Linked DNA regions of Homo sapiens. The protein of the gene in region 5 interacts with the protein of the main gene of each other region in a biochemical or structural test. Each region holds a gene or a part of one and is shown on either strand. Other genes may lie near its edges.

Region 1 (3,500 bases), on a different chromosome or scaffold from region 5:
CTGCCCTCTTGAAAGATGCAGATCTAGAACATCTCTTCATCCCAGAAAGTTCTACTGCACTACACTGCTTTAGATTTTCCAAGAGAGGCCCAAAGCTCTGAATGTTTAACACACTCCTCAGATGTCTTTAACAGTCCACTCATAAAATAGTCTCACAAAAATCTGACAACATTACCATTTGCCCAACTTCTTCAAAGGGAATCTGTAGCACAGAATACCCTGGGAATGAATTCCTGGTTAACTAAGCCACTTGATTAAGCACAGGGCCTCAAGCTACAAATCAGGGCTGTGGCTCCCAATCGCGCACAGGGCAATTAACTCAGCTCAGATAACCAGCCAAACCCGGTTCAGCAAACCCTATGTGCATGGATTATACACAGAGGGTGTGTGGGGATGTGTGTGTGAGAGGGAGAGAAAGAGAAAGAGGAGGGAGGGGAGAGAAGATCCAGGAGCACAAACTCAAATGCCCACCAGCAGGCCAAATAGCAACCATGAATTAAGGCCATAAGTGAGAAAATAAGCACAGAGTAAAAACAGTCAAGCATGATGACAATAACTTATCCTCACTGTTAGGGAAGCAATAATGGAGACTGAAGCATTAATAATTCTTTCTAAAGAGAGCAGAGGTGTCTCAGCTCCAACTGATGGTTGCTATGTGGGAAAGTAAAGCCCAGCATTGTCAGAGCTTCCAATTTGCTTTTCCCCCAAAGAAGATAGGAATCTGGAGTTTTGCATGAAATCTCAAAATATTTAAATGCTGACAACTAAGTCAAAATATAACACTGAGCAGACCTACAAAAATATGTCTGTGGGTCACAGCAGGCCCCACGAGCCCTCTGTTTGCAAACTTAGAAGCTGCTCAATGCAAGCTGAGTAGCAGAACCAAAACCAAGTTGGAAGCATGTGTAATGCTGATGGCGAGTCAGTTCTGTCCACATGCTGTAAAGAAGTGAGGTCTGAATAGGAAATAAAGCACTCAAGTAAGTCAGTGCCCAATCAATTGAAAAGCATTTGAGGAATCCAGTCTGGGCCTAGCTTATGTATACAAGAACCTTAAAATCTATTTAGGTAACAAGGCATCAAAGCCTGAAAAGTTTAGAAATTCAAGAGTTCTAGCCTATTCCTCCAGGCTACTCCCACACATTATCATACCAGATTCTTCTAACTACACAAATTCTCTTAGATTCCGATCCCACAGTTAATCAGGGAATGGAATTGTTAGTCTAATCAGACTACTCCCAGTTCTGGGAAGCTGCCTCAACTTGTAAAACAAACATATTATTCAAAATATCTGAATACAGAAAAGATTCATCTTGAAAACCCTATCAAATATAATTTTTCCTTTCCAAAAAAGGGTGTACTCACATACGCAGTCAGAGCCACAAATTGGCCTTTGTAAATTCCAGCATGCCTGCTATTCCACGAATTCAATGCTCTTATTTCTCATTCATTCCAACCCCAGAACACACTATACATCCTCATTACTAGACAAGCCTTTCCCTTATTCACTTCATCCTCAGTGAATACACACACACACACACACACACACACACACACACACAGTCAGCCCTCCGCATCCATGCATTCCGCATCTGCGGATTCAACCAAACCCCAGATCAAAAATATTTAGAAAAAAAACTACGTGTACTGAACACACACACACAATTTTCTTGTCACTATTCCCTAAACAGTATAGTATAACAACTGTTTAAATAGCTTTTACATTGTATTAGGTATTATAAATAATCTAGAGATGACTTAAAGTATACAGGAGGATGTGTGTAGATTACATGCAAACACTGCAGCATTTTATATCAGGAACTTGAGCATCTGCAGATTTTGGTATCCGAGGGAAGTCCTGGAATCAATCCCCTATGGATACTAAGGGACAACTGTCTATATAAAATGAATGTTCACTTTAAGCAATTATTTGAGCACCTTCTATAGGAAGAATTCTTTAAGGGTAGGAGTAGGAGTATTCCTAATGGCACTAAAAGGTCAATAAATACTCTAACAAATTCCATGCTTTTATTTGTTTGTTTTTTTTTAATGAGAAAAGGCCAGAAATGTCAAAATTCATTTTGAAAAACAATGTGTAATAAATTCACTTTCTGTAAATCAGTGAAAGACACTTAAAAGGTTTGAATCCCTAGACAGCAAGGTTTTAAGCCCTGCACTTCATAATAATAATCCCATTAACAAATAACATGTATTGTGCTTATTCTGTTGCTTAATAACAGATTGGTGTGTAGATATCTAAGACACAGTATCTGCCATCAAAAGAGTTTAAAATCCAATGAGTTCAGCCATACGAAAAGATTAGAGTAGATTAGTGATTCTCAACCTTGGCTGGGCATTAGAATCACCTGGAGTGCTTTTTAAAATACCTATGCCCAGGACCCACTCCTAACCCAATGAATGAGAATCTTGGGGGAAGGGACACAGGTATTTGTAATGTTTAAAATGTTTAATGTGAAAATTAGAGGTTACTGAAGTTCAGCCAGGGTTGAGAGTCCCTGCAGGATACAGCTCAATTACCCATTCACCTGTGACACATAATTTTGATGATAAATTTAACTAATTACTCAACGATCCCCACCATAAGCACATAAGAAGACAATCACTTCTCCACTAACAACTTCACTAAATTGGATTTGGAGGCTGGGACACTGATAAAGTGTCAGGATTCGGAGATAAGCAATCCCACAGTTCTCACCTCTCAGTCCACCACGTTTCCAATGGAGTTCATCAAATGGTGGCAGGAACCTCAAAGGCCCAGACTTCAGAGCATAATTAAAGCCTTCCCAAAAGCTCCCCCTGTATCTTCAGGATCGCATCAACCTCTGGCCTTATCTGATGTTGATTCAGGGGGTTCCCAACATTCCACAAATAGGTTTTCTTTGTTCTCAACAGGTAGTGGTTACTTCTCAGACGCTGTCCACGAAATATAGAATGGCATTCTTGGACTTCACTTACTTTCCAAACTTTAGAAACCTCAACTTCATCCTCAATCTTGAAACCTGTCTTTCTCCCATCTACATTACTCAGTGCCTCAGAAAATAATGGACTTACTTTACATTCATGTTCCCACCAAATTTGGTTCTTTATAGCACTCGCCACCTGGATGTCTAAGATCTTGCCCATTTTCCCATTTGTAGTTAGACTGAGGAATATTTTTCATAGTTGATTTGCAAATCCTACAATATTTGCCTCAGAAACTAGATTTTCTACATGTAGACCTCATAAAATATATAATTAAGAGAAACTTGTGGATATCCCATCACTATTCCAGAAGCAAAATTGCTATTTTTAGGTTGATGTGATATAGCAGTTAGTAGATGGAAATGTCTTTTTAAATCAAGCATTAAAAAACAAACAATATGGATAAATTCCAATTCATAACAACATACATAGTACTAGGCTATGCAGTTAATGGCTGAGAGCAAACATCTAAAGACACAGTTCCTGGTTTCTAAACCCAAATCTACGACTTACTTGTC
Region 2 (3,500 bases), on a different chromosome or scaffold from region 5:
TGCATTCCAGCGTGGGCAACCAGAGGGAAACTCCATCTCAAAAAGAGGAAGAAGAAGAGGGAGAAGGAGGAGGAGGAGGAGGAGGAGAAGAAGAAGAAGAAGAAGAGGAGGAGGAGGAGGAAGAGGAAGAGAAAGAAGAAGAAGAAGAAGGAGAAGAAGGAGAAGAAAAAGAAAAAGAAGAAGAAAAAGAGGAAGATGAAGAGGAAGAGGAAGGCAAAGAAGAAGAAGAAGAAGGAAGAAGAAGAAGAGGAAGAAAAAGAGGAGGAAGAAGAAGAGGAAGAGGAACACGAAGAAGAAGAAGAAGAAGAAGAAGAAGAAGAGGAAGAAAAAGGTATTATATCACAATAGATTGAAAAGCTAGAGAAATGTTCTCTAGGAAGTAAATTTTAAACAGTGGCTGAAAACGAGTAGAATATCAAAGATAAAGTATAGAAAAAGGGTGTTCTTTCCAGAGAGTGGATGGGACTGGCTGGGGCCAAGTCAGGCATTTCAGAAATTCAAAGAAAAGGAGGCAGAAACATTGAGAGCTGAAGCTAGGGAAGGACATGGGATGATTGATCTGGTTATAAATTTTGGACTTGAACACAGTATAATGACAAGCTACTATAGCAAAAATTTTAGTATGCCCTCTCTTTATACTGCAGATATTTCAACATCTACCTTAGCTTTTTAAATTGATAAATTGGCAAAAATCTATAACTAAACGTTGCAGTTTCCAGAAACCTTGCCAATTTTATGGTTTATTAAATTGCCCTTCATTTTCCTTATAATAAAAAATATTATCTAATGTCATTATTAGTCAGAAAATTTTGTTATTTTTTCCTTTTCATAAATCACATGTAGCAATAGGATCTTAAAATGGACTTCATGTAAGATTTTCTATTCTCTTAGCAAAACTTTACTCCTTTGCTCTTTTAAAACTCAATTTAAGATCTTCTGTTATATTACCCAAGTCGTGACTCTCTCTCAGACAAAGCATCCTCTAATCAACTCTGCAAATATAGTTTCAGCATCTCTGAAAACTTCTTGCCATTTCCTGTTGTTATTTATAATATACTTCTCATGAACTGACTCACACTGCAAATGGCATCTGAGCACCCAGGTCTCATTTTAGTGAGGGAGAGAAATATGTTAAAATAACGAGCATATGACAGTGCTATAGAGGTAACATGCTAAGGAAGCAGAATAAGGAACGATAAATCATCTTGAGGGAAAGTAGGAGGGGGAAAGTTGTATTGTAGGGAGAGACTGTAGTACCATCAAGGACTTAAAGACAAATGCAAGAGCAACCTGGTGCAAGCCTGAAAAAGACCAGGTGATCCTGCTAAGAAATTCATAGAATGCACCTGCCAGGAAAAGATATTGGAGAGTTAAGTGAGAAGGGGGCAGCATAGACTCTAAGCTTTAGATGGCTAAGAGTGGATGGGTGGGAGGAGGAGAAACTTTGGAAAAAGCAGGGGTTCCTTTATCAGAAATTTAGTGAAAAGTGACTATAGCTCAATCATTTTAAAGATCTACTTTCAACATAATCATCTAAAATCATTGACACTAGATTTCTTTTACTAGAGTTTCTACCTTTGCTGCCTATAACATTTCAAAAGATTGTGTTCCTTTACGGTTGCAGTCATTATCAAGTTATATGCAAGTAATAATATATATATAACTAACTGAAAAACTAAATAAGATACTCTTAGAGACTGGCATTGACTAGAAGTATTAGTATAATAAGGAGTATTTACACGATTATCCACATAGGTTTAAATAAGAATGTATATATTCCTCTTTCTCACCCTCATTCTCTCTCTAACACACATGCAGGAGCTGTTATAAGGTGATAAGAACAAAAGTTCTAGCTTCAGAATTCTGTCTTGATTTGAATCTCCTCTCTTTTATTTATTAATAGGTAATCCTTGTCAAGTTGATTACCATATATATAGCTTCCTTCACTCATCACTAAAGTGGAAATAATTAATTGATCTGATGATTAAATAAGATACTATATTTAATTCTTTGCTTAGTATCTAATACTTGGAAGTACTTAATGTTGGAAATTTTTGTTGTCAGTATTGATTCAATAAAATAAATACAGATAAATATTCGTATCATTTCCTAACTTGCCTTCTATGGCTTGCTCTCTGCATGCATTTCTCTTTTGTCATAGTTTGACTTATGCCCCAGTAGAAAGAATAGCCTCCAGAATACTTTTTTGCCAACTGGAAAGTATCATTTAATAATAGTAATGATAATAATAATAGCTAAACATATCAAGAACTCATCAGTTGCATTTTTCTCAATTTTCTCACTTCTCCAGAAGTATCTTCTATTTTGTTAGATTTGTTCCAAGTTCTCTCAGATTTATAAAGCAATATTACAAAGAAACAACAGGTTTTTTTTTCAAGATGGCTGACTAGATGCTTTTCCAGGGTACTTCATCCACTTAGAAGAATGACAATGGTGTGTAGACAATCACACTTTGCACATATGAAAGCAAAATCAAATATTGGGACCCCAAACTCACTATACCAAAGGGCTAAGTTTAGGTAGTTAGTCATGAAAAAACTGCCTTCCTTTCATTCCCAAAAAGCTGTAATTTCATGTTTACTTTATGTAAAATGTAGCTTTTCTGCTCATTAGTAAGATCCTCACAAGAATGTGACCACTTATCTCATTGCCTACCCAGACTTTTTTTCTTTCTTCCTCTTCCTGCTTGCTTTTTCCCTGTTAAATATTGAAGTTCCCAGAACCCTTTTTAAAAAAAAGCACAGGGTACAGATCTCCTTGTGATTTGTGTTTCTTTTTCCCAGGCATGTTCTCAACCTTGGCAAAATAAATCTCTAATTGATTAAGATCCACCTCAGTAACTTTTTTGTTTACAAACATATTATCCAAGAGAGAACACAGGAGTTCAACAGTAACACACGAAGAAACTCCAAAATCTGACCAGAAAAAGAAGAACAGTCAGCCTGTGTGGCTGTGGGACTGGCTGAAAATGAGAAGAGAGTAAATTCCCAATATGGGAGAGGGTGAGTGAGTATCTTTCTGTGGTCCAATTTCCCACTATAGAATCATATAATTCAGGCCACGGTAGAGCACCATGACTTTTCTAAGCCCTAGATCTACCTTGGGATGTGGCTGGGAGACTGTAAGAAGTACCTGCTCTGGGAAGTGTCCCATGCACTTCCCGAGACCTTGGAACCTACAACAGAACACCATTCTTGATCCTAGCTCTTTGCAAGCTGTGCACAGTCCTGAAAACTAGCAGCAGTGGCAGCCTTTGTCATTAAAGAGGCTCTAACAGTATCCTGGGGATCTGGTGCTCAAGCAGGGAAGAGGTTCCCACAGCCAGAACCGAGAATCAAGTATGGCATGGGCTCCAGCCATTGGCATGCTGGAACCAGGCTCACCCCATCTTTCACTTCACCCCCTTCCCCCACCAGTACAGGAGGGGATTTGTTTGGGAGGCATAGTGTTGGGCTGTGCAGTGACTCCTAAGGCCTGGG
Region 3 (2,968 bases), on a different chromosome or scaffold from region 5:
AGAATCGCTCCAACCTGGGAGGCCGAGGTTGCAGTGAGCCAAGATTGCGCCATTGCACTCCAGCCTGGGTGACAGAGTGAGACTCCGTCTCAAAAAAAAAAAAAAAAAAAAAAAAAGAAATCGGAACACTGAAATTAAATGCAAAACAGGTAGACTCATTTAAGTTTTAGAAATCAACCTCGCCAACAGGTGACAGGAACTGGGAAACATTAGGAGATGATTGTTGATTTGGGAAATTCACATGAAACCTCAGCCATTTCTCCTGAGCAGAGAGGGCAAGAAATAAGAATGAAGGTGCATTTTAGTTGAGGGTGCTTTTCATACCCACTCAGAACTTCATCTGCCTGTGGATATTCTAAACAACAACATCTATCTTGTGATCAGGCCCGAGGCTCATGACAGCACAGTTAAGGTTACAGTCCCTCTCTGGTGTTTTAGAATGGCGACTGCTTGCTCATGAGTAACACCTTCCAGGGTCTCGCCATTAACAGCTAAAATCTGATCCCCTCGTTTTAATCGGCCGTCATCTGCAGCTGCTCCCTACAAACAAGAAACATTTCAGTTTAATCCAGGGTAAAACACAGTTTATATTAAATTGATATTAAAACCTCTAACATCTGTCTGGTGTGCATATTAAAAGAGTAACTTTAAAAACTACCAATTAAGTTTTTTCTAGGTAATGTTTTAAATTAGGAAAAAAGTAAGATATGCTGTTTGAATAATAATGGTTGAATAGTAACTATAATTATGGATAATCTAAATAACATACTAGTAGAAATGTACTGATACACTGCTTTTAATACAAGTAGAACCTTATTTCACTATTTAGTATTAAATGGAATTGGATGTCATATCATGTCCTATTCATGAAAACGTAATATACAGAAAAAGGCAGATAGAACTGAATCTGGTGTTAGTCTTACTGCAAATACCACCATTATACAGAGTTCCCATTGCATTATTAAGCTATCAGCACTGTGATCTGTCAAAAATAAGTGTAGTCTTTAAATGGGTGAATTGTATGGTAAGTGAATTATATCTCAATAAAGCTGTTATCTACATATAAATATATACGAGTGTAGCATCTCTAAAATTTTGTAATATATTCAAAACCTTCCACTTTATCTTTGATCATCTAAATAGGTTTCTAAATGACTACTTTTATTATATACTCAGTCATGCATAGTTCCTCAAAACGGCACAAAGCCAGTGAAACTTCAGGGTTTTTTCACTCTAAAGCTGCATATCTAAAAATGCCACGATATTACTAGAAACATTTTGGACTGGTAAGGGAAGAAAAGACCTTAAAAAATGATTTACAGGAGGTTTCACCATCTGTAGGGGTAACTGTTTCAGTCCCTTGAAAAGTCAGTGCCAGAAGAATCCTCTAAATGAGGTCAAACTTCAGTGGGCAACCAAAGCCCACAGGCACTTGGCCCTCGACCGACTCAATCAGAAGCCGAGCTAGGAGGCACTAACGCTCCTGAGATCTGTGTCCATGTGCAGCTTGGAGGTCCTGAGGTGCTGGGGAATCAGACAGGTTTTCTAAACCGTGAGAATGGTGGAATTTCTAAATGAATGTGCAATAAAGAATATTCAAAACCTGCTGGGTGCAGTGGCTCATGCCTGTAATCCCAGCACTTTGGGAATCTCAGGCGAGAGGATTGCTTGAGCTCAGGAGTTTGAGACCAGCCTGGGCAACATGGTGAAACTGTCTCTACAAAAAATTAGCCAGGCGTGGTGGCTTATGCCTGTGGTCCCAGCTCCTCGGGAGGCTGAGGCAGGAGGATCACTTGAACCTGCAGAGGTTGGAGTGAGCTGAGATAGTGCCACTGCACTCCAGACTGGGTGACAGAGTGAGCTCTGTCTCAGGAAAAAAAAAAAAAAAAAAAGTATTCGAAATCAGGTCTATACTGTGGGCAAAATATCAAAACTAAATATTAATAACTTGCAACTGGCTGGACATGGTGGCTCATGCCTGTAATCCCAGCACTTTGGGTGGTCAAGGCAGGAGGATCACCTGAAATCAGGAGTTCAAGATCAGACTGGCCAACATGGTGAAATCCTGTCTCTACTAAAAATACAAAAATTAGCTGGATGTGATGGCGCATGCCTGTAATCCCAGCTACTTGGGAGGCTGAGGCTGGAGAATCACTTGAACCTGGGAGGCGGAGGTTGCAGTGAGCTGAGATCATCCCATTGCACTCAGCCTGGGCAAAAAGAGTAAACTCTGTCTCAAAAATAAACCCCAAAACTTGCAACTTCACTCAAATCTTTTAAGAAAGTAATGTGTCAACTGTATTAAAGACAAAATTAAACAAGTAATTTTACTGGATAAAATCAGAATTACTAGGCAAAGTTGATTTTATTAAATTTTACATGCTAAGATTTAAGGGCTTCAGTAAATCTCAGATATCTGTGTAAATTAATTTTTTAAAAACTATGTTAAGCTATTTATCTTTTTTAGTAATGCAAGGAAAGAATTTTTAAATTTTTTTGAGAAGGAGTTTCACTCTTGTCGCCCAGGCTGGAGTGCAATGGTGCGATCTCGGTTCACTGCAAACTCCACCTCCCAGGTTCAAGCGATTCTCCTGCCTCAGCCTCCCAAGTAGTTGGTATTACAGGCGTCTGCCACCAGGCCCGGCTAATTTTTGTATTTTTAGTAGAAACAGAGTTTCACTATGTTGGCCAAGCTGGTCTCGAACTCTTTTTTTTTGTTTTTTTTTTGAGACAGAGTCTCGCTCTGTCGCCCAGGCTGGAATGCAGTGGTGCAATCTCGGCTCACTGCAAGCTCTGCCTCGCCGGTTCACACCATTCTCCTGCCTCAGCCTCCCGAGTAGCTGGGACTACAGGCGCCCGCCACCACGCCTGGCTAATTTTTTGTATTTTTAGTAGAGACGGAGTTTTTTACCGTGTTAGCCAGGATGGTCTCAATCTCCTGACCTCGTGATCCGCCCACCTTGGCCTC
Region 4 (3,968 bases), on a different chromosome or scaffold from region 5:
CTTCCCCGGTGTCCTCAGAGTAAGTTACTGACTCCTATGGACTTCTAAGACCAGCTCTTTGTAAAATATCTCTGATCTGTGGCACTTACCGCACAGTATTATAATCACTTATTGTTTTAATTAGTCTCCCCACCTTGACTGGGAGCACTTCAAGGCGGACAGAGCCTTGTTGGTCTGTTTATCCCCAGCTATTAGCAAATCCTGAATGAAGGAGTGAATAGACAGGTAAATGGAAGCACAGACCCTGACCCCTGAGGATTCAGAGTTGCCATCCTTCATGCTGCTGGAGCCCAGGGGAAGGCTGAGTTAGAAGAGGGCACAGAAAAACCGAGCAGGTATCTAAGAGAGGTGCACCCCACTGATGCATGTGGAGTGTCTGGGACCCAAGAAAATCCTGGAAGCTGTCACTAGGGCAGGGTGAAGGGTAGCACGAACATGGACTTCATGTTCCCCCCACCGGGCATATCCCAGTGCAGGCTCCAGACGGCAGACGAGGGGCAGCCCCACAGCAGCTTCCTCTCCCTGTTTCATCCCCAGCCTGGCCCCACACCACAGTCCATCAACTCCTGCTCCAGGTGGAAACCTCAGAAACCCACAAAGCTCGGACCTGCTCCAGGTCACCAAGCAGCAGGGCCAGGCACTGGCAATCCAACGAGAAGCCCCACTACATCGCATTCCAGCTCCTGAAGCCATTCCCTGGGTAGGAGAGCCCTGATTGTTATTATCATCTCTCCATTTTACAGATGGGGACAGAGTGGCCTAGAGAGGTGAAGTGTGCCAAAGGTCACACAGCCAGCCAGAGGCAGAGGAGGGACTAACCCCACTTCCCTCCACGGGCAGTGCACCCCAAAGGAGCCAAAATGCTGACAGCAGTGGGGCAAATTCCAGGGGCCCCGGAGCGACCGCCGAGTTGGCCACAGCCACACGATGCATAGGAAACGCTAGGCCCTCTGCACCCTCTCCTGAGGCCCAGTGCCCTGAGGCAGCCCCCTTTAAGGAGCGATCGGCCTTCCAGAAGAGCTCCAGTCTTAATTTTAGCTTGGAGGCCTGCCACAGGAGGCTTTAGAGAGAGGCAGGCTGAAGTTATGTGGGACAGCTGTCAGCCGGCATGCTGGGTGGGGCCTATTTAGCTGGCAGGGACATAAGTCTGGGGACACTGAATTGGTCTCTCTGCCCCAAGTATTTTCAGCCCCAGCCGGCCACACAGCTCGGATCTCCTCCTGTGGATCCCCCCAGCTCTGCGATGATGGCAGAAGAGCACACAGATCTCGAGGCCCAGATCGTCAAGGATATCCACTGCAAGGAGATTGACCTGGTGAACCGAGACCCCAAGAACATTAACGAGGACATAGTCAAGGTAGGCTCTGCAGGCCTGCCTCGGCGGGCGGAGAGTGTCAGGTTTGCGAGACGTGGGCGCTTGGCAGGGGAGGGTATCTGCTGCAGACACAGTTTCCCTGAAAAGAGACTTGTTGCTCTGTTGTCTCTGTATCACCCCCCCAACCCCACCCCACCCCCAAAAAAAGGCTTCTAAATCACCGAAGGATCTTTAGCAAAATCAAGAGCAAAAAATTAGCCTCATCTCCATGACCTAAGTGCTAATCAGGGCAGGAGGAGCGAGTCACAAAGAAAATCCCTCCTTACTACTGTGACGCTCCTGCCACTCACTCCTGGCTCTCACCCTGGGAGGAACAGGAACGGGCGGCCAAGTTGGGCTCCTTTCTGTGCCAAGGGGCATTTCTGCGGTCTCTCCAGTGGGTGCAGGGTTAATCCCCAGAGGGCAGCTTCCAGCAGGGCCGGCAGCCCCTCGAGGTACACTCACTCCCCCAGAGCACTGCCCAATATCTGTCCCCAAGGCCGAGGGCCATGCCCAGCCCTCCCCTAGCTACCCCCTCACCCCAGGTCTAGTGGCCAGGACAGGGCAGACGGCACCCGGGACCCTCGAAGAGAAAGCTCGGGGTTGTCTAGCCCTCAGGGAGTCTCTCAGCGTCTGAAGTTGGGCCTCTTCCCTCGCCTCCTGGTGACACTAGCGGCCCTGCTGCCTCCAGGCCCACACCTTCAATCCAACTTCCAGCCAGTACCCAGAGGGATCTTTCTTTTTTCTTTTTGAGACAGTCTCTCTCTGTCCCCAAGGCTGGAGTGCAGTCGCACACTCACGCCTCACTGCAGCCTCAACCTCCCAGGCTCAAGTGATTCTCCCTCCTCCACCTCCTGATTAGCTGGGACCACAGGCGAGTGCCACCATGCCCAGCTAATTTTTGTATTTTTAGTAGAGACTGGGTTTCATTATGTTGACCAAGCTGGTATCAAACTCTTGGGCTCAAGTGATCCTCCTGCCTCCCAAAGTGCTGGGATTACAGGTGCAAGACTCCACAACTGGCTCAGAGGTACCTTTCTAAAGCAGAATTCCTCCAAGAAGGGTCCCCAGCCACCAGCATCTGAGTCACTGGAGGGGCTGTTAAGAGGCCAGTGTCTGAGGCCTCTCAGATCCTACTGAAAGCATTGGAATCTCAGGCCAGTGCTGTCCAATAGGGATACTGTTACCACAAGGAATTTAAAATTTTCTAGCAGCCACATTTTAAAATGCGAAAGCAAACAGGTGAAATTAATGTTCCTGATATTTCTTACTTAACCCTATATATCTAAAATAGTATTATTTCAACATGTAAGCAATATAAAACAATTATCAATGAGCTATTGTACAGTCTTCAAGTTTGAAATCCAGTGTGCTTCCTATACCCACAGTATATTTCAGTTCAGACCCCACATTTTCATCCGAAATGCTTGTTCTGCATTTAGATTTCATAAAATGTACATGTGAAAATCGATTCGCATGCCTGTACTGTTTCAAACATTCTGCAAAAATTTTTCAATAATGAAATCGGGGTTTACATTTTAATTAAAGTTAAACAAAATCTAGAATTCTTCAGTTTCACTAGCCACATTTCAAGCGCTCAAAGCTCCTGGCCACTGGATCAGACAGGCCTGTATTGCGGTCTTTCAGTGGGGCACCTCCCATGCTGGAGAAGCCTAGCCTCTCCACGTGGCTGTCCAAACCCAACACAATCTGGCCCCAACCTGCTTCTTCTGCCTGGTTGGCTCCCACCTGCCAGCCCACCCACCAGAGTACATTCCTGTGCCATTGCCAGAAGTGCCTGTCCTCTCTTCTCCAGGTGGTGAATGCCTCACTCAGCCTTCAAGGCCCAACTCAAATGCAACCTCCTCCAGAAAGCCTTCCCTGACTCCTCCAGGCAATTAGTTGCTCCCACTTCTGTCCCCCTGCTTCACTCAGGGCATTCCTCCACCACAGCTCTTCTTATACTGGATATTATATTTCTATACATCGTTAGTGATGGAGATAGAGTATACAGTATAGCACAGTGTGAAAGCTGAAATGAGGAAAATTAGGAAACAAATTTCACAAACTGTAAAGCACTATATACATGTAAATAAAATTGTACCTGTAAAATATTATTAGTTATGGTTTCCATCAGTGTCATCTAGCAGGAATAGTCCTGGACTTGACTTTAATAGACTTGATTTCAAATCCAGTCCATTTTACCTAAAAATGATAACACTGGACAAACCAACTAGGTTTTCTGAGACTCAGTTTCCCCTGTAAAGTGGGAATAATATCATTTCCCAATTTACCTCCACCAGGTAAACGAATCTCAAAGCAGCACTGTGCGTTAGAAATATAGCATGAGGATTGAATGAGATGAAGGGTTTGAAAGTGTCTATCACAGTCCCTGGCACCCAGCAAGGATGAGACAGTGTGAGTCAAAGAAGGGTCTCAAAGAGCTTGCAGTCTAGAGGGCAAGAGAGCTAAGCCAGGAGCCTGCGTCATGCCCAGGTAGCCATCTGGTACACCCAGGTGGGCTGCAGGGAGATGGGAAAGAGGATCCCACGGGAGAACATGGTTTCTAAAGGGCACCCACAATGGCTGGTAAGTACAGAGGGAGCCCTTGGAT
Region 5 (3,500 bases):
TGTTAAAAATTATTAACAATTTCAAAATGATGACTGCAGAGCATTAAACCAAACATAGGCCCTTCTAAGCATGGGGCCCTCAGGAGGATGAGTACTCATGAAGCCATCTCTGTGCCCTGGACTAAAGGGGAGGCCATCTGTCTGTCTCCATCGATTTATCCATCCATCCATCCATCCATCCACCCACCCACCAATCCATTTATGCATCTCTACATGCATTTATTTATCTAGTGATTATTTCACTATCCATTCAGCAGATAGGCCCTGGGTTGGACACTGATAAGGACACAAATACAGGTGAGATGGGAGCCACCCACAGTCCACCAGGTCAAACCTGCACCTTTACCTTCAATGCTCTGGGCCAGGAGGGGCCAGGGCTTCTGTGACATGTTTAGAAAGCTGAGCCCTACCCCTCTAAGGCTAACTGGAAACCCTGCCCCACCCTATAACCACTGAGGCTCAGCCTCAGAAGTGAAGAAGCTGGTGGTGTCACTGCCCTTGGGTTTCCACTTCTCAGAAGGGAAGGTAACAGAGCAGCAGCAATGAGGATGTGGCAAAACAGTCACAAGAAGCATGGTAGGAACTCTCAGGGGCTAAGGGCAGAGCTGGATGGACCTCTGGGGGCCACTAAACTTCTCCCTTGGCTTCTCCCCACTTTATTATAAGAGGAAACTATGATTAGAATGAAGAAGTGGTATGGCCAAAAGCTCGGGGGTCCAGCAAACCACCCAGGAAGATTCCCATTTCTTGTTGGGACGGCTTTGCTCCTTTTCAGCCCATAGCCCAGACAGACCTGGAGGCTGAGCCCTGAACCACAGAGGTGGAGCTGGGTCTCTCCAGGCCTTCAGAGAGATGGTAAAGACCCAGCACCTGTGGTGGAACAAAGGCGAGCCCAGGTCCCAGGCTCAGCGTCATCACCAATGATCTGTACGGACCTTAGGTGCAACCCTTCCCCTCTCTGGACCTTAGTTCCCATCCATACAATAAAGCAGTTGGATCAGGTGACCCCCAAAAGTCCTTTTCATCTCTGACATTCAGGAACTTTCAGACCCCCTGACCCTCCCAAGGGACAGCCCTCTCCATCACAGGGCGGAGAAGCTGGTACCTCTGGCAGATAAAAGGTTTCAGGCACCTGAGACATCAAATAGCCCTGATCTGAATTGAGGAGAGGAGGGGATTTTAATGCGGTTAAAGCAGTACACTTTGATTTTCAGCCTCCTGCACCAGGCTGGGGGTGGGCTACCCCAGGAAGCATCTGGTGGATGTAGGGGGCGGGGGCAGGGTGGGCTCTGGGGCTAAGGCTTGGAGGTTCAGGAAGACTTTATCCTGAGGATCTGGGCCTGAGGGCTCAGGAGGGATGTGAAGTGGGCTTCCACACTGGAAGCAACAAGCATGGGAATTTCACACCCACTCCCACCAGAGGTAGGTCCCTGTGTCCATTCCCCCCCTCACCTCTGGATCCCATCACTCATCTGGGCCAAAGCCTTGCTTCCTCTTGAAATTAGAGCATATGAGGTTTGAAAACGCAGCACTGGAAGAGACCTAAAGGGTTACAGCATCCACACACAGCCCCTAGTGGGCCTTCCTCCCCGACCCTCCCTGCTCAGTATCTCAGGAAAATGGGCATGTGGGAACTGTAGGAGCCCTCTGAGCTCCTCAAGAAACTGAGCACGTTAAGGGGCCACACTAATTGTCAGAAAGTTCCTCATTGTTATTGCAGGTTAAAGTTTTCCATTAGTGGTCATCGATCCTGACCTCTTTCTGTAATGTGTAGAAAAAGGGTAAGAAAAAAACCCTTTCATTGTGAAATTAAATATGCATGATCCCTGAGTACACAGCAAGGCTTGTGCAGCTGCCAATCTGGGCTGGCATGGCTTGGAATCCTGAAATTGTTTTAGGGCTGGAAGAAAGATTTACCATCATCTGGGTCAACCTCCTCGTTTGACTGATGGGAAAACTGAGGCCCCAGAAGGGAACGATCTGTGCACAGTCCCATAGGGTTCTAGGGTCTGATGACTACCTCTGGAATGCTGAGGGCCCCCACAGCTGAGGCACATTCTCAGGGTTTACACTGGATCCCCAGGGGCATCCCAGGCCCCATCCAGCCTCTCATCAAGGGGATCTGGAGTCAGAAACACCCAGGTGCAAATCCCAGCTCCGCCACTTCCGAGCTGTGGGACTTTAGGCAACTGACTCTGCGCACTTTCTCACCTGTAAAATGGGGAGAGTTTAGCTGGGTGCGGTGGCTCACGCCTGTAATCCCAGCACTTTGGGAGTCTGAGGCAGGCGGATCACTTGAGGTCAGGTAGTTCGAGACCAGCCTGGCCAACACGGTGAAACCCCATCTGTACTAAAAATATAAAAATTAGCTGGGCATGGTGGCGCACACGCCTGTAATCCCAGCTACTTGGGAGGCTGAGGCAGGAGAATCACTTGAGCTTGGGAAGCGGAGGTTGCGGTGAGCCAAGATCATACCATTGCACTCCAGCCTGGGCAACAGAGTGAGACTCCATCTCAAAAAAAAAAAAAAAAAAAAGTGGGGAGAGTTTATATATCTAATTTTGAGGTTGCTGTGACGGTTTATTTATTTATTTATTTATTTTTTTTGAGACAGTCTTGCCCTGTCGCTTAGGCTCACTGCAATCTCCGCCTCCTGGATTCAAGCAATTCTAGTGCCTCAGCCTCCTGAGTAGCTGGGATACAGGTGCGCACCACCACGTCTGGCTAATTTTTGTATTTTTAGTAGAGACAGGGTTTCACCATGTTGGCCAGGCTGGTCTCAAACTCCAGACCTCGGGTGATCCACCCGCCTCGGCCTCCCAAAGTGCTGGGATTACATGTGTGAGCCACCGTGCCCAGCCTCGATGGTTAAATTAATCCAGTAAATATTTACTAAGAATGTCCTGAATGCCCAGCATGTTCCAAGTGCTGAGGAATACAGCAGCAACTTTGAGGTAACAGATGTAAAGCACAATTGAAGTAGACACAGAAAGTGCTAAGAACGAGTTGGTTCCTGTTATATCATCATGCTCACACTGCTTCCCAGCTGAGGTGCTACAAGCCCTGACCCTGGGAAGGGGCCCAACACCCCTTCCCTTCCCTCCTAACGCTCTGGGTCAGAAGACAGGGGGCACCAAAAAGATTCCCATTCCAAGAACCCACTGCCCACTGGGTTCTGAATCAAATGCAAGAAATGGGTGGGCATTTCAGAAGACCTTTTCATCCCTTTCTCCCTTCCCACTGCATTCAGCAGCAGCCTGTTCTGAGCCAATGCCCAGAGCACCCTCCTTTAGCCTAGAAGGCAGCTGGTCTCAGAGTCAGACTGTGGCCTGTGCCTGGAGGATGGACACGGATCTTTGGAACATACATGGTGTCCAGGTCCCTTCTGTGGGCAGAGCCTTTTGCAGGTTGCAGATTAATTTCACAGCCAAGTGTTCCAATGCAGGAGGCCAGGAGAGCAGTGGTTCTCTCAGCCAGTGGCCAGAGGTCCAGCTGTGAAG
Region 6 (3,500 bases), on a different chromosome or scaffold from region 5:
TCTGGGTCAGCTGGTGCTTCACAGGTGTCTTTTCTACCTGACATTTGGTACAGCACACAGGAGCCCTTAGCCTGAGGCCAGAGGACACCCTGCTTTTGACCCTGGTGCACAGGGGTAAGCGGTCAATGGCTTCTCCAGGATGAAAGCCTCCGGCACCAGCCCCGCCCCAGCCCTGCCCAAGCCACGCCACGGGTGCCTTACACGGGATGATCTGGATGACCCTGGCCTTCTTCATGTTTGCCGGCAAGTTGCCCGTCCTCATGTTCTCCTTCATGATCCGGACATTTGTCAATTTCTGCAGCAGAGAAGGATATAATGACACAGTTAAACCTCTGACACTCCTGAGCACATTGCTCAGCCGAGGACTAGTGCTGCTGGCAAGGACGCCTGCTCAAAGGAAACCACTCTCCAACCCAGGAAGCCTCCTTAGCATTGGGAAATACAAATGTGTGCCTAGTAGGGCTGCTATGAGGCTCTGAAAGCCACCTGATCCTTCTTCCCTTGTAAATCATGGCTCAGGTATTGCCCCTGCTTTTTCTGAGGTCAGTTAAGGGGCAAGTGATTGAAAGAGGCTTCCTTTAAATGGTCACCTGTTTTCCTCGTGCCCTTGGCTGCTTACACCAGGATGGAGAGGAGGGTCAGCTGTACTCACCCTGAACTCCTCCTCCAGCCCGATCTTGTCGAAGTGGGTGGTGGTGCCGTGCATGGTCTGCAGGTGCTTCTCCAGGGAGGACACGTCCAGCTCTGTGTCCCCGTAGAGGTAGTACTCGAGTAAGGCTTGGTAGATGAACGTGTACTGCATCTGCAGAGAGGCCAGGGGTGCCCACACCCTCAACTCTGCCCTGCAGTCTTGGCCCACGTGGAGCTTGGCAGACCAAAGAGGGCGGCTTTCTTCTTTTTCTCTTTTTGCCAACACAAGGAGGTGTGAGGCAAGAGTCAGAGTACCGGCCACGGATAACGACCATTTATGCCCTTGAGTAAGGAGAACGGTAGCAGCAGAGCCTCACATTGGTGAGCACGCCACGCACTGTGTACATGCACCGTTTGGGGGAGTAGGATTGCCCCATCTCACATGAGGATACGAGGGAAAGATGAGGACGAGGGAGTCCCTGAGGTCCCACGCGTGGGCAGGGAAGGCTATGGGGAGCGAAGCCAGGCCAGGCCCAGGCTGGTTGCCACGTGCCCATCAGAGCCAGGGCCCTGCACACCTGTGTGGCGAAGGCATCGGGTTTGCTTTGGGAAGCTAGATCAGGGCAAGAGGAAGGCATGACTCACATCCGTTTGAACCATCTGAGGGCGCTGATTACGGATTCGAGACACAAATTCAAACACATCCACCTTCTGCTCCGCGTGCATCATGGCCATCATGGCATCGATCACAATGAAGGTGCCCGTCCGGCCCACGCCCGCGCTTTGGGGAAAGAGAAAGATGCTGCGTCGTGAGTCACACTCCTCCCGAAGTAAATGAAAGGCCCCGAAGGGGCCTGCGCACCCAGGTCACTGGATGCAACTTTTTGTTTTTTTGGTTAATTAGGAGCAAAGCTACAGTGCAGCCACCAGAGGGAGCTGTGGTCTCAGTAAAGTGATCTCAGGCCGGTCCTCTGATAGCCACCGACACTCTACTAAGAGGCACATTAACAGCTGGTGCAGTAAGCCTCGGATTAGGCTGTGTGGAGAATTTTTCTCACTTACCAAACAGTGTCTTCTTCTTATATGTGTGATTGGCATCCTAGATCTGTCCCCCTGGGAGCAGAGGGACCTCAGATCAACTATGCAACAGCTCTGGTATCCAGCCTCCCTCTCTGTCAAACTGGGCAAACCAAGTCATCTGACTCGGGGCATTAAGTGAGGTGGCATCTGTCAGATTACTGTTATCTGACCCTGCAAATTCTTCCCAGTATGAGCTACACTGGAGGGTGGGTGGGGTGGGGTCCAGCCTCTGCTTGGCCCCAGCAAGCGAGTGTTGCTCAGACTTGGGGAAAGCCCGTTCTTCGGGGGTTCCTGGACGGCTTCTCGTGAACACCTGCATGACAGGTGCAGAGCGCCTGCATCACTGCGTGCAGGTGGCTTTTGTCCCTGGCAGTGCTGTGATACTCAGAATGAACCTGTCTGTAACAGATGGAAACTTAGTATCTAATCAAAGTGATACCCTGGTGAGGCCAATCACTGCCAGGAACAAGTGGGGCTCTCTGTGGACAGGGGGTTGTGGGGTGGCCTTGGCTGTACATTTGAGTAATTCTTCATGTTGTGCAAAGCCCACCCAGATGCCAGTCACAGGCTCCGCCGAGGCTGTCCTTCCCATCACAGGTGAGGAAACCGAGGCTGAAGTGGCAGCTGGCGAGGGGCAGCCTGGTCCTCGGACCCTGGTCTCCAGGACAGCGTGTTCTGGAAGACTCTGCTGTGGGGGCCCATCTGAGCATGGTGTGCTCTTCCATAACGACTTGTGTGTTGTTGGGGGGCTTCCTGTAGAAACCAGGGGGCTTTCTCTCATTTCCATCTTGGTTCCCAGAGGTGACTTGGGATTCCCGGGGAGAGGTGAGGGCGGCCAAGCAGACCTGCCCAGAACTCCATTCCCACCATCAACCGGAGCCTCCTGGCTTTGGTGGGTTTTATCGACTGGGATGAAGAGGGGGCTCTCTGAACATTCTCCTGTAGGGTTCTTGGGGCCTGGCTCAGTCACTGACATTTGTGTTCACATCAGCCCTGCCCAAACCTCTGCCCACCCTGATATTGGTCCCCTGGCATTGCCCATGAGGATGAGTCATCCCACTGTGGCCTGCCCTTGAGGGTCCCGCCCCGTGGCCCCCACAGCGTACCTACAGTGGACCACGATGGGCCCAGCGTGCACGGGGTTGAGCGTCTTTACTTTCTTGAGGAACTTCAGCATCCCAATGGGGGTAAAAGGCACTCCGAAGTCGGGCCAGCTGGTGAAGTGCAGCTGTGAGACCAGCCTGGGGGCTTTGCAGCCGTCGGGGAGCTGCTGCGGGGGACGCGGGGAGACAAGAGTGGGTGAAACAATCCTCCCCCTGCTCCCCCAGCATCTCATTCTGAGGACGCCGCCGTGGGCTCCCCTGTGCTGGGGCTGCGTAGGGGAGGGGCCCATCCACAGAGGGCCTGCCTGAGCCAGACAGCCTGGACCTTACCCCTGCCGACTCTGAACATGTGCTGCTTTTGGGGCCACAGAACAGGGCCCGCAGCAACCGTCTATGCCCAGGTCAGGCAGGGCCCAAGCAGCCAGACACATCCCCAAAGTTGGTCTGTGTGCTCACAGACCCCCGTGCAAGCAGGGCGGCCATGGCCCATCTTGCCTGGACAGTCCCACCTCAGGCCGGTGGTGCTGAGTAATCACCAACAGCACATCCTTCCTTGGGCAAAGCTGTCTTACATTTGGGAGGACAGATGATGCAGTCGGCCTGCTCTTTGGAGTCTCCCAGACCTGCCCTCAGAGCCTCTCTCAGCTTTTGGACCCAGAGCCCATGAGTTTAATTCCCTTGCCCAGA
Region 7 (3,500 bases), on a different chromosome or scaffold from region 5:
TAGATGAATTTTAATGTTTACAAGTGCAAAAGCAAATAAATATTTACCAGTTGCTTTTTTTTTGCACTCTTATAACTCCACAACAGCTTAGACGCAAAAAAAATTGTTGCTAAACATCTTGTAGTCTGGCAAAATGAAGAATTTCTTATTAAGAAAAGCCCTCACAACAATAACAACTCCTCATGCTTATGGCTCCCTTGCAGAAACTATCAGGATGGTTCATTAAGATTTGAGCATATGATAGAGCAACAAAATTGCCACCAGGAGATGAGGATCTCATGCCCTGGCCTCACTGTCTATACACTGGCTCATTCCCACAGCAATGGGAGCTCTGGGAGAGAGGGCCGTATTTCTTGGGCAAGGACCATGGGCCAATACCAGCTCTCCCCAGGCTGAAGCCTTTCATTCTGTAGGTTTCCATGAACAAGCCACTTCTCCAGAGTGGCCTTTCTTAATTAAGGTAGGTCCCTATCCTCTCCATAATTCTCTTGGACAGCATCCTGTTTATTTCCTCTATTACCATTTCACAATCGAAAACTTCAGTTAGTTAGTTTTCCAGCTTGCCAGTTAACCATCTAGCTTGCCGACTAACCACCATCTAGCTTGCTGGCTTTCTAACGTTCCTGCTACCTAACTTCTGGGCATGCGCTCCAGCTAGCTACTGTCTTGTCATCTGTCTGCCTTCCCCTTTAAACTTTTTAGGCAGGGACTAGGATCCCCTGGGACAGCACCCTGCCCAGTCCCTGGCACCAAACTAGCCATTTGTAGATACATTATATAATGAATATGGAATGAAATCTTAATAAATAAACTTCTTAAGATCGATGGCTTTTTTTATTCATGTATATCATTGCCTGGTTGAAGTCCCTGGAGTTATTCCGAGGCAAGAAAACAAATATCAAAGAAAGACTTACTCCAGCGTAAGAGAGTAGGCTTTTGGAGTAAAACAGGGACACACACATACACATTTCACATGTGTGCACCTTTTCTATGACAGACATATATGATTCTAAGAATATTAAGTACCTTCTGAAGCTTCACCTTCTGCTCCCAATTTTTTGAAAAAGGGTACGACTATTCACAGGAGCAGGAACCCTCGAAGAAGACCTGCACCACTTACCTGGATTAACAGTGATAAATCTGCTGTCTTCAGAAAATCGGTCCCCGCGGGACATAGGCTTTTTAGATGGCATTTCGGGCCTCTTGGGATCACTCCCTGCATACTGCTCCTCTGTGGCGGTGGGGGGCACTTGGGTGGAGGTGACCATGTCGGGGTCCAGGCCTGGGCCGGCATCCCTCCTTCCGCCCGTCTGGTCTGTGGGGACGGCAGTGTGATCCTGCTCATGCCCAGGTATAGTCTGATGCCCTCCCTCGGCAGTCCTGTTAGGAGACGAGGGTGTGGGGCTGGGCTCCGTCTGATTCCGCTCCTCGGCAGCGTGGGTCACCCCACTCTTCTCCTTCTTTTCGGAGTCCTTCTCTCCATCCTCCTCGTGCTCCCGCTCCCCATCCTCACTCTCGCTTTTCTCATCCTTCTCTCCTTCCTCGGTGCCCTCGCCGTCCTTGGTTGGTGACGAATCACCATCGGGCCCTGGAGAAGCCAAGGCCTCTGTGGTGGCTAGGACTGGCCTAGCCGCCTGCTTGCTGGCTGAGGCGGCCGTCGGGAGGCGCGTGGGCCACACAGTGCTGGGGAAAGAGGAGATGCCACCACCGCCGAACCCCAGGCCGGCGAGCAGCGTGCTGGTGACCACCGAGGCCACTGTGGCCTGGCTGCCACTGGAGGAGGGGCCCATCCCAGTTGCCATGGAAACAAATGAGAATGGGATGCCAGAGGACGTCCAGGTAGAAGACCCCGAGCTGATGGGGGCCATGTCGGCTGAAGAGGCAGGAGACGCTGTGGGCTGGAAAGGGTCACCCGGCAAGGGTGGAAAAGAGGCAGAAGAAGAAAAAGCAGAGAAGCATCAGTAATTGAGATTGGGAATGAGGCCCTGGTTGTCACCCTCTGAGGATTTTACTCATCTATGCTATGGAGTTTTCCAATGTATGGCATAAAGTTGACATTAGGTGGTCCATGGGTGATCAACTTTTATTTTTAATGGTTTTATAATTGTGAACATGTTAAAATGCATAACTAGTCGATCAAACTCAGCTTTTCACTGATATTACCCAAGATGAGGCTAGGTGCCAAAAAAACTAAGTAGTGTTAAAGCTGACTTACACAACAAAGAAGTCATGAACTGGAAAAATCAGATGGTCATCTGTTCTTGGGGTGATGAGAGGCAGAAGACCTTTGATTTTATGTATATCACTGACACTTGAGTAGATACTCAGCTCTAGGTCTGGAAAGATACTGGGTGATCCAGTCCAACCCCACTGTCTCCCAGTGAGGAAGTGGGTGGACAAGGAGGGAAAGCAGCCTGCCCAGGTCTGCAATGACAGGGTCAGAGGCAGGAGCCATGCTCTGCACTGCATGCTCTGGGCACTGGTTTACATCTCTGCATCTCCATGTTGGGCACTGCAGAGTCACTGTACCTTGCAGTTTCTAAGTTGATCCGTGGGAAAATCTGAGCCCATACAGATGACAACAACATCAACAACAATAACAAGAATTCCAATTAACAAATGCCAACCGTGTGCCAGGGCTTTCCATGCTACTCTGGAGGCAGGCATGATCATCACCCCATTTTGCAGGTGAGGAAACTCAGACACAGAGATGTTAAAGAGCTTACACAAGGTACATGACCTGGAAGGCACAAATGCAGGGCTGCCTGGGTCTAAGACTCGGCTTGTTCTTACCACCATACTAAACTGGGGCTCAAGTCTGGGGGTTTTACTCACATAAGGTATCTTAGGAAAACAAGAAGTGCTGCTCTGAGCTATTAGTCTAATTTTAGCTTGCCTGCTGGGTGATGCTGGACACATTACTTTAACTCACTGAGCCTCGGTTTCCTCATCTGTAAAACGGGAACAACAGTAACACTGACCTTGTGGGCTGCCTGGAGAAGTAAATAAAATAATCTGTGCCTGAAACCCAGGAAGAGCATAGTGAATTTTAGGCTATTATTATTATCACCACTGCTGTGATTAGTATTTTAATTATTCATTATACCAACCAGGAATGGGGAAACTAAGATATTAATTCTGGTTCCAGAAATTTTCAGATCCATATAACTTTACGCAAATGACAACCTCTGAATTTGAGTATATGTCAAATGAAAGGGTTGGAACAGATTTAACTCCTTTGTGGTCCTGCATCGTCTGATCCCACAAATCATAACTAAAAATATGAAGAATTTTTACCTTCACAAAATTATATAATATAACCACCTAACACTGTTGCACAGCTTGTGTTCATAAGGTACTGAATTATAAAAAGTGAATAATGTAATTTTTTCTCTACTATAACCGCTTTACACTGAGCAGTTTAACAACATTATACTGCCACTTCGTGGTGACAGTTTTAACTGCAAGCAAATTAACAACCAGCCACGACAAAGCAATTT

The links.
Region 1: the proteins of PDGFRB (region 5) and PARD3B interact in a test that uses a peptide from one of them, tested with the Homo sapiens proteins (one large-scale study listed by IntAct).
Region 2: the proteins of PDGFRB (region 5) and SNTG1 interact in a test that uses a peptide from one of them, tested with the Homo sapiens proteins (one large-scale study listed by IntAct).
Region 3: the proteins of PDGFRB (region 5) and PATJ interact in a test that uses a peptide from one of them, tested with the Homo sapiens proteins (one large-scale study listed by IntAct).
Region 4: the proteins of PDGFRB (region 5) and CAV3 form a complex in vitro, tested with the Homo sapiens proteins (one study listed by BioGRID).
Region 6: of the proteins of PDGFRB (region 5) and PTPRE, one has a biochemical effect on the other in vitro, tested with the Homo sapiens proteins (one large-scale study listed by IntAct).
Region 7: of the proteins of PDGFRB (region 5) and PTPRG, one has a biochemical effect on the other in vitro, tested with the Homo sapiens proteins (one large-scale study listed by IntAct).

The regions. Positions count from the first base shown.
Region 1 is NC_000002.12:204,548,475-204,551,974, reverse strand, and holds part of PARD3B (partitioning defective 3 homolog B), read right to left. Parts: intron 1-3,500. UniProt on the Homo sapiens protein: Putative adapter protein involved in asymmetrical cell division and cell polarization processes. May play a role in the formation of epithelial tight junctions.
Region 2 is NC_000008.11:50,698,407-50,701,906, reverse strand, and holds part of SNTG1 (gamma-1-syntrophin), read right to left. Parts: intron 1-3,500. UniProt on the Homo sapiens protein: Adapter protein that binds to and probably organizes the subcellular localization of a variety of proteins. May link various receptors to the actin cytoskeleton and the dystrophin glycoprotein complex.
Region 3 is NC_000001.11:62,158,480-62,161,447, reverse strand, and holds part of PATJ (inaD-like protein), read right to left. Parts: intron 541-2,968; coding exon 394-540; 3' UTR 1-393.
Region 4 is NC_000003.12:8,732,634-8,736,601, forward strand, and holds the start of CAV3 (caveolin-3), read left to right. Parts: upstream 1-1,168; 5' UTR 1,169-1,243; coding exon 1,244-1,357; intron 1,358-3,968. UniProt on the Homo sapiens protein: May act as a scaffolding protein within caveolar membranes. Interacts directly with G-protein alpha subunits and can functionally regulate their activity. May also regulate voltage-gated potassium channels.
Region 5 is NC_000005.10:150,149,346-150,152,845, forward strand, and holds part of PDGFRB (platelet-derived growth factor receptor beta isoform 1 precursor), read right to left. Parts: exon of another isoform or gene 2,994-3,500; intron 1-2,993. UniProt on the Homo sapiens protein: Tyrosine-protein kinase that acts as a cell-surface receptor for homodimeric PDGFB and PDGFD and for heterodimers formed by PDGFA and PDGFB, and plays an essential role in the regulation of embryonic development, cell proliferation, survival, differentiation, chemotaxis and migration.
Region 6 is NC_000010.11:128,067,603-128,071,102, reverse strand, and holds part of PTPRE (receptor-type tyrosine-protein phosphatase epsilon isoform 1 precursor), read right to left. Parts: intron 2,981-3,500; coding exon 2,817-2,980; intron 2,464-2,816; coding exon of another isoform or gene 2,241-2,463; exon of another isoform or gene 1,418-2,240; intron 1,412-1,417; coding exon 1,276-1,411; intron 803-1,275; coding exon 653-802; intron 296-652; coding exon 202-295; intron 1-201. UniProt on the Homo sapiens protein: Isoform 1 plays a critical role in signaling transduction pathways and phosphoprotein network topology in red blood cells. May play a role in osteoclast formation and function.
Region 7 is NC_000003.12:62,201,571-62,205,070, reverse strand, and holds part of PTPRG (receptor-type tyrosine-protein phosphatase gamma isoform 1 precursor), read right to left. Parts: intron 1,899-3,500; coding exon 1,121-1,898; intron 1-1,120.